Linked DNA regions of Homo sapiens: region 1 is reported to be linked to region 2. The links are microRNA targets in miRTarBase. Many come from high-throughput screens and were not tested one by one. Region 2 holds a microRNA gene; the other region holds the end of a gene's coding sequence.
What was found. Region 2 holds the annotated microRNA hsa-miR-182-5p (UUUGGCAAUGGUAGAACUCACACU, at 5,109-5,132, opposite strand). A microRNA usually pairs through its seed, bases 2 to 8, with sites in the 3' UTR of a target mRNA and lowers its output. Matches are read on the target gene's strand: a 7mer-m8 pairs with bases 2 to 8, a 7mer-A1 pairs with bases 2 to 7 and ends in A, and an 8mer does both.

Region 1: the mRNA of NUP50 is a reported target of hsa-miR-182-5p. Seed matches in the 3' UTR shown: 7mer-m8 at 772-778 and 7mer-A1 at 3,506-3,512.

What each region holds. Positions count from the first base shown.
Region 1 is chr22:45,183,910-45,190,909 of GRCh38, forward strand. NUP50 (nucleoporin 50) reads left to right here. Exons shown (of 8, transcript NM_007172.4): 8 at 544-4,108. The coding sequence ends at 746. LOC105373064 (a long non-coding RNA gene) reads right to left here. Exons shown (of 4, transcript NR_146602.1): 2 at 6,593-6,636; 3 at 6,008-6,291. Among named protein-coding and RNA genes, the nearest start is that of MIR1249, 14 kb to the right of the region's middle. RefSeq lists an enhancer at 6,960-7,000.
Region 2 is chr7:129,765,339-129,772,602 of GRCh38, forward strand. MIR182 (microRNA 182) reads right to left here and starts at 5,154; the gene lies at 5,045-5,154. LOC105375501 (a long non-coding RNA gene) reads right to left here and starts at 3,867. Exons shown (of 3, transcript XR_927963.4): 1 at 3,350-3,867; 2 at 2,549-2,620. RefSeq lists an enhancer at 5,305-6,168.

The DNA of each region.
Region 1 (7,000 bases), not on the chromosome of region 2:
GAGGAGGAGGAAGACGGGGCAGGCCTGCGGTGGAGCGGGCAGTAGTGGTAGAGAACAGGGGGCTGTGTTGCAGAAACTCCAGGGAGGCATTTTTCTTTCCCGTGGGCTTGACTAGGGAGTAATAACATGGTCGTGTCACTTTTGCCCAGGGAGCTGTGCCGGCCTGTGACAGAGGTGTCCTTTGTCCGTGTGGCGCAGTGAAGACACTGGGTTGTGCCACCGTGTTCTTCCTTCAGTGCAAAGACGGACAGTGTTGAGAGGGCTGACGGTTCTGAGCGAGGCTGCTGGCTCTGAGAGAAACGCTGTGTGGGTGCAGAGACCCGGGCTGGAGGGAGGACGGAAGGCCACTCCTCACAGTGAGGGCAAGTGCTCCCCGAGGCCTCCCAGTTCTCAGGGAACCAGTCCTGATTTTGTGCTGTCCTGTTGGCTCCCTGTCTTAGATGTATTAAGTTATTTCAGCATTTAATGTTTAGCATATTACAGACTCCTTTGGTGGAGCTATAGCTTCTATAATTTTGATGGGTTTTGTTTGTTTGAATGCAGGCAACATATTGCTGAACGTTCTGATTCCACCCAATATGCCATGTACGCGAACAGGGAAGAATAACGTTCTTATCGTCTGTGTTCCAAATCCACCAATTGACGAGAAGAATGCCACCATGCCAGTCACCATGTTGATTCGGGTAAAAACCAGCGAGGATGCAGACGAGTTGCACAAAATTTTACTGGAGAAAAAGGATGCCTGAACACGCAAAGTCGGCTGCAGAATTATTGCCAAGTTGCTGCTGCTTCCACCGCCCCTTAAAGTTAGTCAGTTTTTCTTCTCTTCTTTGACATTCTAAGAACTTATAGATAACTTAAAACTTTTGTGAGGAAGATTAATGTGGCCAATAAAACCTTTAAATGTTAAGTGTCAAGAAACTGCACTCTCCCTTCTTAAGAACTGCCTAAAGTGTAAAATACATTTGAATGCAATTTTTGGAAGATTTTTTAATGTTCGTTTATTAAACTAACCCTAAGTGATTTCTTCAAGGACTGCAATCAGGGTATCAATTTGCTTTCCCAAAGGCTCTTCCAACCCGTGGGTTTTGGGGTCCACCGCCACCACGAGAGAGGCTTTTGAACAGGTGCCTGGCTGTGTTCAGAAGGAAGCTGGCCTGTGTGCTTCTCTCCGGTGGGCTCAGCCGACGTGTGAGACTTGTTCTGTTACCAAATGAACCGGGCTGCCACGCTGTGACAGGCGTTTGTCCTCTGCTTTATTTTTACTTTGAAGCTCAAATGCGAGTACTAAGTGTTCACCTCAGCGTTCGAATCATTGGCCTGTAACCCTGTGGGCTGCTTCACGAGAATTCAGGACCTGCATTTTCATTCTAAAAAGAAATGAACAGCTTGTGAAGGAGTTTTTTGGCTTCATAGTTTCTATTCATGAGGTAGTGTTACTTCTTTATCCCCCTAAAGACAAAATGAAGATAAAGGGGGATTGCCAGGAATGGGTTTAAAAGCACAAATGTGGTAGCTTATCATCTACACCATGGAGAGTGAACCCTTACGAAATGAAAGTCAAATGAGACCATCCGAGAAAAAGATGCGCATAGGCATTTGTACCATGATCAACCCCACGCACATGAAAACTGTGACCAAGTGACGTGCCTGGGAGCTTTGACACACGAGCCGTGTGAATTCACTAGGAAACATGTAATAAAGTCATGGAAGAGAAAATCGTGTGTAAACTTTGCCTTTAACTTTAGACCGCAGTATATTATAATACATTTGATATCTGAAATATCTTTACTTTTTTAAGAGTAAGATTCCATATGTCTGTCTGGAAGGGAGCCATGGTTATTCACACGAATATCCCTGTCACTTCTCCAGAGGTGTCAGGTAACTAACACGAGCATTCTTTGAAGACTCTGGGCACATGAATGATACACAGAATTGAATGTTTAAATTTCCACTGAGTCCTCATGAATCATTTGAGACTAGTACCAGCTGATCTTGTGTACAGGCTCAGGGTCAGTGCCCAAGGGCTCCCGCGTGTGTGTTCTGATCTTCAGTGCGTAGCACATTCTCCATTTAGAAAAGAGTGGTCAGAATAATTGTGGACGGTACAGTGGCTTTTTAAAACTACAGTCTTTAGGTGTAAGGTTTGGCGCCGGGAGCAATTTTATGATCAAATATGATGAACTCCTAAGTCACTGAGGTGTGATTGGGCCAATGTTGGCATGAGGTTCTTGCTCTACTTCCAGTGTTTTGATTCCACTGGGAGAATTTGGCCTAGTGTGTGGCTTTGGATGAATCCGTGTAGAGAGAGGTGAGCTTGTCCTGTTACAGATGCTGTCAGACATAGCGATAGTAGGCACCTAGGGAGGAAGTGGCCGTTAGTTTTACACTGACTTTTTAAGAATGGAGAATGCACGTGGGTTTCTGTTGCGGATGATTCATAGTAAGCAAGCGGTTGATGCTGTTAATACCGGCCCCACCCGATTGACATTAAGTTTATTCAGCTTTTAAAAAGATGAAGAACTAAGGGGAACAAATTTAAGTTTGTTGCAACTTAGCCACACATGCTTCCCTGGTACCAGCTGGAATCAGCAGCTCACAGGCATCTTCAGGACACTTCAGTGTATATGACACAGTACTTTGTTAGCGTCTGCGTGTGTATGGAAAGTTGACAAAAAATGGCATGAAAAGATCATGATTGGATTTTCTTTTAAACCTGCCCTTCTGTAAAAAATAGTTTATATATTTTTAAATTAGTAGGTATGTGTGGCTTCCTTTTTTCCTAACATTCCCAGCAAATTTTTGCTGCTAAGACTATCACTGTTAAAGTGAAAATTACAGGGAAAAATGTGATGAATATACCGTAACTCAAAATGTGATATTTTCTTAAAATCACTCTTTTATGCTTTAGGAACTGGTTGGTCTCCACTTTGATTATTAGTGTAAAGAGCCTGAGTATACGTGGATTTCATTGTAAAATTTAACTCCTTGTCTTTTACTTGGGGCACGGGGCCCCTGGAGGGCTTCCCTACTTTCCCCACTATGTTAACAGGTAATTCTGATTTATGCGTTTAGTTTGACTTATTTTTAACAAAATATTAGAAGTTATGCTTTAAAATGTTTAATGTGGACTGAAATTTTCATCTTTTGTTTGAGAATCTATGAAGTGTATCATATACGTGGCCTAAAGCAAGGTGTGTATTTTGTTATTCTGAAATTGTTTTGCATCTGGACAAATACTAAATATCCCAGTGGCCTTTTTTTTTTTTTTTTTAAAACCTGTGTATCCATCTCATCCTTTTGCGCATTCCTAGTAAGCAAAAAAATTTGTTATGCCATCTTCATTATTCGAATTACAGACTGAAAAAATATGGCCAGTTTTTAAAGAAGTTTAGATTATGTTTTCCATGGAAGGACAAGTCTGACTGTTCATAGGCTGATTTTCTTTAAGAGGATTATTCTGTTTTACAATTTCAATTCTAGATCACATTTTATATATGCTGCATGCCAAAAAAAAAAAAAAGAGAAAACTGCCTTTTCTGGTGTGGAGGGGAAGAAAAACTAATATTCTACCTTACTAGTAGAGTTCAAAACAAGTTTTCACTGAGAGCCTTTTCAGTAAAAGTTAAACAAGTTTGTTTTTTGAGCATTTGTCAGTTATTCTATTTCAGAAGAGTCAAAATTCAAGCACGATACATTTTGAAGGCTTTGCAAACTCCTAAACCCCTGATGAGTCCTCTCATTCTGGAAGTGGGAATTTGAGTAGATACTGATTTGTCCCGTAGTATGGCAGATGACAGGGAGGTCTTTTCCAAGCAGGCACTCAGAACACAGGTCACCGTATGTTCTCAGCCAGTAACAATCATACTGAGGACGAAGGACTCTCCGTTTGATGCAGACACAATTGTAATGGAGATGTAAAACTTCTTAGCAATCAGATGGATAAATTGTTTGCTTTTTACTTTAAATAGGAAATTGTTTTCTAAAACTAAAATACTTGAATTGTCAGACAATATAATCTCAGCTTGTATTAGTTTTTGAATGCTCCCATCGAGGAAGTGTAACAATCCATGAAATGTGAATAAATGAAAAGTAAACAAAATCCCAATGTGTGAGTCTTATGTTCCTCTGTGATGCACTTGGCATTAATACAAGTCAGACAGACCTGAGGAAGAAGAATCAACGCAGAAGCTGCAACCGGAAACTTCCTTGAACAACAGGAAGGTCAGCTTGGAGGTGAGTGAGAGACCAGTTTATTATCAGACTCCTTGTTGGGGGCCGAGACTACTTTTAAACCATTCAGACCAAGGGTTTCTGTTGGATTAAAATCTTAACAGATTGGAATGGGAACAATTGATCCTTAATGGGCTAGTGTGCAAAGCATTGGCTAGGTGCTTTATATGTATTACCTTGGTTAGTCCTCAAAGCAAACCTTTGAGACTTATTTTTTAACCTTTCCTATGTTACTCAGCATTTATTTGGTTTATAAGGGGTATTTTCTGGTTTAAAAAAATAATATTGCAAAGATTTAAGTTATCCATCAAAGTATTTTCCTGAACCGTTAACATCTAATAGAAACTAAATGACACTAAGAGAATGTCATCTGAAGAGGAAGATTGCACCTGAGCCGCAGCAGCCCTGTTTAGATACTCAGCTGCATGGCTGGGCTAGAACCTGGGTTCTCAGAGTGGTCCTGGGACTGACACATAAGAAGTTGATGGAAATGCAAGCCCGGCCGGGCCCAGTGGCCCACGCCTGTAATCCTAACACTTTGGGAGGCCGAGGTGGGTGGATCGCTTGAGCCCAGGAGTTTGAGACCAGCCTGTGCAACTGTTGGGAAAAGGGCTTGTGGGGTGCCTGTATAAACTGGCCATAAAAATACAGGACACTAAGTTGTGGAAAGCCACAAGAGGTCTCTGAGGAGGAGAGCCTCCTAATTGCCATCATGTTCCCATGCTCAGAGTGAGACCTGCTCTCGTATCTGTAAACACTGTGTTCAAGGAGAGAGACACTCCTTTGAAACACTGGAATGCGGACAGACGTGCAGGCTCCGAGTTAAGCCCGCTCCCACCAGCTACTCTCCGATAAAGATACGCTGTTTGAGCAGCACAGAGGAGGTTCGTTGAAACCGCTGTTGCCGTAGATGATGCCTGTGACGCGCCGCCGCCCTTCCACTGTTTCGCCCCGAACATCTGCTTAAATCTAAGTGATTGGACTCAATAGTGTGGAGACCAGAGCTCTAAGCCTTTTGCAGCCTCCACATTTTGCAACTGGCCCCCTGGCTCCCACCTTCACTCTTAACCTGTCTCTTCTCAATCCTTTGTCGCCACCAGACTTCGGGTACCCTACGGGTGGTGTTGAGGCTGGTCCCCAACATGCAACATAGCAAAAACCCTGGCTGTACAAAGAATACAAAATGTAGCCAGGCATGATGGCATGCACCTGTAGTCCCAGCTACTTGGGAGGCTGAGGTGGGAGGATGGTTTGATCCCAGGAGGTGGAGGCTCCAGGGAGTGAGCAGTGATCATGCCACTGTACTCCAGCCTGGGTGACAAAGCAAGACCCTATCTCAAAAAAACAAAAAAAAATCAAACCCGGCTGGGCGAGGTAGCTCACGCCTGTAATTGCAGCACTTTGGGAGGCTGAGGTGGGAAGATTGCTGAGCCCAGAGTTAGAGACCAACCTGGGCAACACAGCAAGACCCTGTCTTTAGAAAAAAAAAAAATTTTTTTTTTTTAATTAGCTGGGCATGGTGGTGGAAGGAATCGCTTAAGCCCAGGAGATCCAGGCTGTAGTAAGCCGTGGTTGCGCCACTGTACTCCAATCTGGGTGACAGCAAGACCCTGTCCGTGCCCATCCACCCCCCCACAAAAGGCTAACCCATGGGCCCCAACTAGGCTACTGAATCAGCGCCTCAGGTTGGAGCCCATTTTTAAAAATTGAGATAGAATTCATATAAACTGCACCCCTTTAAAGTACATGATTCAGTGGCTTTTAGTATACTCACAGTGGTGCAGCCGTCATCACTGATCCAAAGTATTTTCCTCACCGGTCTTCTGGGTTTGAACGTTGGGTTAGAGCGTGCATTAGGTGATCCTGAGGCATGCTCACATTTGGGAACCGCTGGCACATGCACTCCCGATGACTCCAAAGATGGCCCGTGAAATACCCCTTGCACACGCCGGGAAGAAATGGCAGTAGTGATCAGCGTTGCCAGCAACTATGCCAGCCTTTGGACGTAACCTTGTCTCACTTCAACATCGTCGCGTCCCAGGAAGGAAAGTGGTGATTCTACTTGAGAAAACCCAGGCCCAGGGTTAAGTGTGTCTGAGGTGGTGCAGCTTGAGGTCCCAGCCCCACACACCTCTCCCCAGCGTGCCACGTTAAGTGAGATATACGTGCCCACTAAATTACTCAACTGCACTGGCTTCTGGAAGTGGCTAAAATCTTTTAAGCAAAATTGTTTATTCAGAGTAGCATAAAATTTGGCTAAAAGCCATGGTTATTTCAAAATGAGCAACCTAATTGTTTCATTAAAATCAGATTCCAAGAGGAAAGACCCCAGTCCACACAGAGGAAAGAACTCTCTAACCTGTTGGCTGATGGAGAGGCTAAGTCAGGGGCAATTCAGTGACACTGTAAGGAAAGAAAAGACAACATGATCCTTTCTTTATCCCCAGAAACAAGTATTTTCTCTTCCTCATGTAAATTTTCCAGCTGTTCTTAGCATTTTAACAATCAGGCACAAAGTACAGCATGTTACCACAGTCAACATGTCTATTTACAATGAACTGTGTTATTATATGGATTGAGTTACATTCCCCTCTCCTCCCAGTGTAAGATTCCCAAAGGTTTTCCTTTCCAGTTACCTTTTTTCCTTCTAAGCTAGGGCATGACAGTACTTCCTAAAAGCTCATCTAAGGCTAAAGGAACCGAAATAGCAGATTAGCCTTCCAAGAGGAGGCAATGAATAGGAATGAGGTTCCCGCAGGCAGCTTCC
Region 2 (7,264 bases):
CCTGCCTCAGCCTCCCAATTATATACATTTTTAAATGCCTAGATTATGGCTGGGGAATTTAGGGAGTTGTGAGAGGCCCCAACTTGGGTGAGGAACCAGCCTCGACATAAACTTAGGATTGTCATGCTGACAGGGCATCTGATCTGGTCCCCACCTGAGGTTGGCATCCCACTCCAGCACCTTTGCTTGGCCATCTCCAGAGATGGAGGGTCCAGACCCGAGGCCCTCATTGGTGCAGTCAGGAAGCTCTGTGTGATGTATAGAACATGCCTGTCTGGGGTCGGCTACTGCCCCTGCTTCTGCTCTCTTAAGTCATAGAGAACTAGAATTCTTTCAACTACTTGAAAATAACCTCACATTACCACCCAAATCTTTCATAGCTAAAATCTCCAGTTTCCATTTTTCCTGGAGATGGGTGAGTTGTTTCCAGAAATGGAGTGAACTGGAATTTCCTGAGTGGCCCCCAACGAAAACCAAAAATCCTGGATTTTATGTTTTGAAACGTCTTCCAATGCACAGCAATATAGCGAGTAAGCCACAGAAGGGACCTGGATAGCCAGACCATCTCTGGTCTGGTCCAGCGCACACCACAGCACGGGTGCCCTCCAAACTGAGCCCAGACTGAGGGATAACGTCAAGGGCTTCACAACCTTCATCTCCCATGATTCTCCTCCAGGAATCTGCTGCTGTAAGTTGGCTGCAGCCTGTCCTTCCAAGCACCACACTTTGCCCCTGTATTCCTCCCCCTGGGACCTGCTCTTTCCCCCTTCTCTCTCTACTCAGGCTCAATGTAGGTGGCTCCCTCCACTCAGAGCCCATGCACCACCCCAGCCCTGGAGGCCATGCCTTTCTTCAGCCCCAGCACCTCTTCCTGTCTGTACTACATGCACCTGCCCCATCCACACTGCCCAGTGGGGCTTGTAACCGTGCCCAGCCCAGCTCCCGCGTTGAGCTGTGTGTACCAGGAGGGCAGACCCATTGGCATTGGGTGCCATGCCTCCTGCAGCAAGCCCAGCCCTTTGCTGTTAGTGTTTAACAAGAATCTTGATGGGGGCCGAGCGCGGTGGCTCACACCTGTAACGCCAGCACTTTGGGAGGCCGAGGTGGGCAGATCACTTGAGGCCAGGAGTTCGAGACCAGCCTGGCCAACATGGTGAAACCCCATCTCTACTAAAAATACAAAAATTAGCCAGGCTTGGTGACAGGCACCTGTAATCCCAGCTACTTGGGAGGCTGAGGCAGGAGAATTGCTTGAACCCAGGAGGTAGAGGTTGCAGTGAACCAAGATCGTGCCAGCACACTCCAGCCTGGGAAACAGAGCAACACTCTGTCTCAAAAAGAAAAAAAAAGAACAGCTGAGTTCATCCCTAACAGCCTCTTCCCCTGCAGGAATGTTGGATGCCTCTTAAAAAAAAAAAATGAATATTGGTGGACTTAATGCAGCCATCTTCTTTCTGCTGGAAAGCTGGTCTTTGTGGAAACCTCTCACATGTGGTTTTGATGGTACTTTGTGCACACTTACTCTGTGCTCCAAAAGGTGCCCGGGCTCCAGCTGCCTGACCTGGAGGAGCTGCCTTGTGGAGCCATCTGTACGCCCTAGGCCCTGACACCAGGGCAGCCCCTCCCTTTTGGAGGTCAGAGCCAGGCAGGCCTTCCTATGACCTCAGGGGGCCCATGGGCTACCCATGCACGAGGGTCCCTTCCACTGCGGGAACTGAGACTCTTGGGGGGGTGACAAGACTTTCGGAGATGCTTGAGGTCAGAGGTTACGCAGAGTGTGGAAGTCAGAATGCATCACCCAGGTCTGGAATTCCACAGCCTCCCTGCCACATGCCAGGCCCCATACCAGGCCAAGGCCAGCCCTGGGCATGAAAGTGTGAGTGAGATACAGCCTGGACCCAAAAAGCCTCCACAGTTGATGGGTGAAGCTGACCTACTAACCTCAACCCTCACCCCTAGCCCTGTGGTTTTAGCACTGGCAGGCTGGGAAGGTGTGTGCAGGGCATTTGAGACATGCTGCCTTACCAGCTTCGAAGGGAGGAAGAGCTGGCGGGGAGGGCAGGCCACATGAGGAAGGCGAAACAATTTCTTCCTGGCGAGCAGGAAGACAGGTGGGGGGAGCAGGAGGGTAGTTTGCATGGCAAGGCTGGGTCATACCAGGCCCCATAAACCAGGTAAGGCGCTTGGGCTTATCCCAAGGGAGAGGGTGGGGATACTGTGGTCAGATTAGCTCAGAGGACGGTCAGTGGAGCAGGGCAGGACAGAGATGGGGAGGTGGCAGTGGTGACGGCAGCTGGGACATTCCATTCCGTAGGGACCATCCCACTGATCAGTCCTGCCTTCCCACCACCCTGGTTCTAGCTCTGCCACCCCCAGCAACCATGTATCCTAGGGAAAGGCAGAAGTCTCTGCAGGGGCTAAAGGGGCACCAGGGAGAAGGTCAGGGTCCACTGGCCACAGTGCAGCCCCCTCCCCTGGCTGTGTGGCACGGGGCCTGCAGCCTCTGGGAGCAGTTGCCAGGGCCCGGGTTCCCTGCTCCACCACTCACCTTGGCTATAAACACTTCATTGTCCTGATCCTGTTTGCTCATCTGTGCGCTGCCCGTGGTTGTGAGGATTCACTGAAATCATGAAAATGTAGCACAGTCTGTGCTCAAAGATCAATAGCTTTACTGTGACTCAATCTGCCCAAAGCCCCCAATTTCTTCTTCAGCGCCCACCCTGCTGAGGCCCCATAATAATTCTATTCCTGCCAGCATGGAGCACCAGCAGCTGTACCAGCCAAATGAAGCTATGTGGGTCGGGGGACAAAGATGATGCAAGGCTCCTCCACGCCAGCTTGGACTATAAAACGCATTCTAATCACTGACCTTACCTCCATGCTTAGCACTTAGCAGTACTTGGGCACCGCGATTATGCTGCTGTTGATCACTACACTAAACCGTTCAGCCCACATCTCCTGGTTTTGTTATTTACAAGCTTAAGAACAGAGAGCAGGCCGGGCGCAGTGGCTCATGCCTGTAATCCCAGCACTTTGGGAGACCAAGGCGGGCAGATCACGAGGTCAGGAGATCGAGACCATCCTGGCTAACACGGTGAAACCCCCGTCTCTACTAAAAATACAAAAAATTAGCCAGGCGTGGTGGTGGGCGCCTGTAGTCCCAGCTACTCAGGAGGCTGAAGCAGGACAATGGCGTGAACCCGGGAGGCGGGGTTTGCAGTGAGCCGAGATGGCGCCACTGCACTCCAGCCTGGGCGACAGAGCAAGACTCAAGTCTCAAAAAAAAAAAAAAAAAAGAACAGAGAGCAGAGCCGTTTCAGGCCCTGGTCTCTGGCAGACCCCTACTCACCTTCCTGGGCATGTATCCAAGGTCCTTCTCCCATGGCACCTGCTTCCTCTGCCATCGTGGACTTAATGGCCAAGTCCAACTCCTCCTTTCATTCTGCACACAGCCACAAGAGCCATCCAACCAGAACACACATCTGATCACACCCCCTCTGGCTGCGTGGCTCCCATGGTCCTTAGGTTCGGGAACAAATGCAGCCTTAAGATGGCCAGCCTTCCAGCCCGGCATAGACCCCAGGAAATCTGTGTGCTCTCCAACAGGAGTCTCCTCCTCTCCCTGAGGGTCACTCATCTTCCAGGACTCCCCACCCCTCCCTGTGTCCCAGCAGGTGCCGTGTGGCCCTAGCTCAGAGCAGCCTTCTTCATGCCCTGCAGAGCCAGCCTGTTTACGCAGCGTCTGCTTGTGCTCACGGCATGTAACATGCATAGTGCAGCCTGCGGGAGAACAGTTCCCTTCTCTTTCTGTCTCAAGAGCTGCCGGCTCAGACCTTCCCTACTCGGCCTGTGTCTCCCCAAAAGAGCGCAGTGAGCTGCACGGAGCCGGTTGAGCCTGGAGCCACCAGATAGATGTCTGCCCCGCCCTGCCCAGCCACAGGGGTTGGTGGGTCATGGAACCACACATGACCCTCCGAGGGCAGGTGAGGAGAAAGGAGGGCTGATGGGGGCTGATAGAAGGGGTTTGGGGGATGGGGAGCACCAGAGAAGGAAGGCTGGCAGGCCGAGGGCTGGGGAGCAGGGGATAGGCCTTCACATTTGCATTTGCACCGTTCACTGCGGGCTAGGCCACACTCACACACACACTTACACCTGCACCCACACCCTCTCAACCACACGCGCAGCTCCCACTCTGGCTCCTGAGCCATCTGCAGGCCAGGAGACTCCAGGGCCGGGCTTCCCCAGCAGGTCTGCCCACCAAGCCCAACTCTCTGGGAAGTGCCACTCACTCTGACCCTGTGGCCCGGCTCCGGCTCAGGGGAGCTCCCACTGCAAACACAAGCTCTGGGAAGGTGAGTGGAGGCTTTGTCTCAGGTTCTGAGGCGTCAGGAGGAACAAATCCATGAAGTGGAATGCTGGAGGCATAGAGGTCCAGCCCATGGGCCACCTGCACCCCAGGGGGCCAGTCCCGCATTTACACAAGTGACTTGTACACTCTCCTCCTGCACATCTCTGGAGGCTTATCCCATCTGGCCCTCCATGGCCTCAGCAGGATCACTGGATGTCCGTGATGCACGGCGTGCCCTCCCTGCCCTCATCCTCCCAGCCAGCAGCCCAGGAAGGAACCACTCTTAGTGACCTGTGGAAGGTTAGGAGACCCTCCCTCGGGGCCCTAGAGCCCACCCTGAACAGGGCCTTTCAGGGGAGAGGGTGAGAAGGTTCACCACCCAGAGGAGCCAGGCCAAAGCCCTGAAACCAAACATCCCCCAGTTCCCTCACTCCTCGATTCAGACTCCAGGGCCACAGCCTGGAGCAGAGCTGGACCCCAGCTCCTCTTGGCAGCACCCCTGAGGGCCAGAGAACGGCTTCCCAGCTGACTTGAGGACCTGTGACCTCAGGGGGATGCAGGGAAACACAGAGTGTCACTTCCAGCTGCACCTGCCCTCTGCCACTACCCAGCAGTCCGGGACCTGAGTCCCCTCCTTCCTCGCGGAGAACAGCAGGTCCAGCATGGCCGGCCCTTCCCTCGCTGGCTGTGCACAGGGTGCCGGCTGAGTCCTCGCCCCATAGTTGGCAAGTCTAGAACCACCGGATCCTGTTACCTCACCAGTGTGAGTTCTACCATTGCCAAAAACGGGGGGAGGCAAGCAGCTCCCCCCAGGAGCTGGGGAGGCCTCGGTCTGTGCTGAGGAAGAGACAGAGACAGTTAGGATGGTCCAGGCAGGGCCAGGACAGAGGCGCCCATCCCCGCAACTGCGACAAGGTCCTTCCTGCAGGGTCGCCCTGGTGTGGAGGCCCAACCCCACAGTCCCCCTTCCTGCTGGTCCCGGTCCCTCCTCAGCCCCCTCCTCTCCTCCCTTCCCCTCATATCTGTAACCTGCAGTTCCTGTGGGCAGGCATGGAGCAGACACCATCCCTAGGGCAGCCACCAGGATCCAACCCAGGCCCTGAGCTGTGGTCACCACTCCCAAGGGAACCCGAGGGCACCTCCACTCCCAGCACCTGACAGCAGGGACTCTGGGAACCAGCACAAGCCAGGCCAGAGAGCCCTGCCCCTGGGCGCTGGGGAAGAGATGGCTAATGTGGGCTGGGTTTTGCTATTTACTAAGCCCACGTCACTGCTCCATTTAATCCAGAGAGATGCTCCCAAGCCATTCCCTAGAGCCTAAAGCTCACAGGCTGCCCACCCCAAAGGGAGAGAGGGAAGTTGCTACACAAAACATTCCTCCTCCCTATCAAGTCCAAGGGAGGAAGAGCATTCCACTTGCCAAGGCCTCTTCCCTAAAAGCAGTGGACAAACAATGGCGCTGGGACCTTCTACCCAGGAACGGGAACAGGCAGCCTCTGGGGCCATCAGTCAGTGGCAGGAATGGGCCAAGCTAAAACCAACCAAATATCTCCCATCCAGACGGCACTCTCCTGACCACAGAACCCACTGCACACACCCAGCAGCCCTGCACACACCCAGACCCTTTGAGGGCTGGCTGCGATCTGATTCTCGGAGTGGCATTTCCCCAGACCGCCAGTCACTTACCCAAGGGCAGCACACTTCCGTGTTCCCACTTCCCCTGATGAGGCCAGGTCCTTTCCCAAGGGGTGTTGAAGTGTCCTGAAGGCATCTCAAGCCTTTAGCAAGGGTGCAGGCTGCCTGCCCCCAACCCTGCATCCCCATGCCTCCCCTGCAGCCTGGAAGGGACTCTTTGCCCTCAAGCCTCCTGGGCAGTATGGGCCCACCATGAGCAGGCTCATTTTCCGAACATGCCCCGGCTGGGGGAGCAGCTGACTTGGCAGGGCCCCCAAAATGACACCGCTGCCGCCGCCACCGCCACCACCCCTCCCATCCTGCCTGCCCTTTAGGGTGGAGTGAGATGGGATGATGGCTTAAGATGCAAACAGATCCAGGCCATCCCCAGGGCCAAGTCCAGGACCTCGGTGGCACCCAGACCGGACCGGCAGCCTGGGCTTGGGCGCTGGGGAGGACACCTCTGCCCGAAAGGAGAGGCTTGGTGGGGAAGGTTTGGCCTCTGAGCAGAGGCACGACTCTGGAAGCCTCTCCGAGGGTGGGCGGGCCTGCTTTGGGACATCAGCAGCACTGGGCTCTCTTGGTCCCATGGAGCCCCCAAGCCTGGGACTTGCTGAGGAGGCCACTCCCACCCTCCTCCAGTGTGTATGTGGGGGGTCCTGTCCTCCTCCCCACCCAGCTGTGGCCGCACCAGCCGGGCTCCATCGGCAGCCTGGGGCTGCAGGCGATCAATGGTGCCGGATCGCATTTCGACCCGCCTGAGGCTGGGCAGAGGCTGGGATAATGGCCTGGAATGAATAAGCAAATGGAGTGGTGGGGGAGGCGGGGAGTCTGGAAAACCCACTCATACAGCCCTCCAGGGAGCTGCCCCTCCTGCCGCTCCACGCACCCAGACAGGCCAAGCAAGGTGCCCGACATGGGGGACGCCCTAAACCCGGGCATCTGGGAGCCGCTGCTTTTGACAAACAGAAAAACAAAGCAAAAAGTGCTTCTCAGTGACCCTCCCGCTCCAGCAAGAAAGGCCTTCGCTGCAGTGGGACAGCGTTCCTGCCTGACACTGGACACCATTGGACAGATCATGGGCAGAACCTTTTGCCCATCTCACAGACCTTCTGGAAGCCACACAAGGGAGGATCCAGGACCTGTTCTGCAGGGTGGGGAGGTGAAGAGGGGCCCTCTCCTATCCTAAGTGCCCCCAGCCTGGGTGGTAGGAAATTGTGTCTTTAGGGAGGAGGGCCAGCT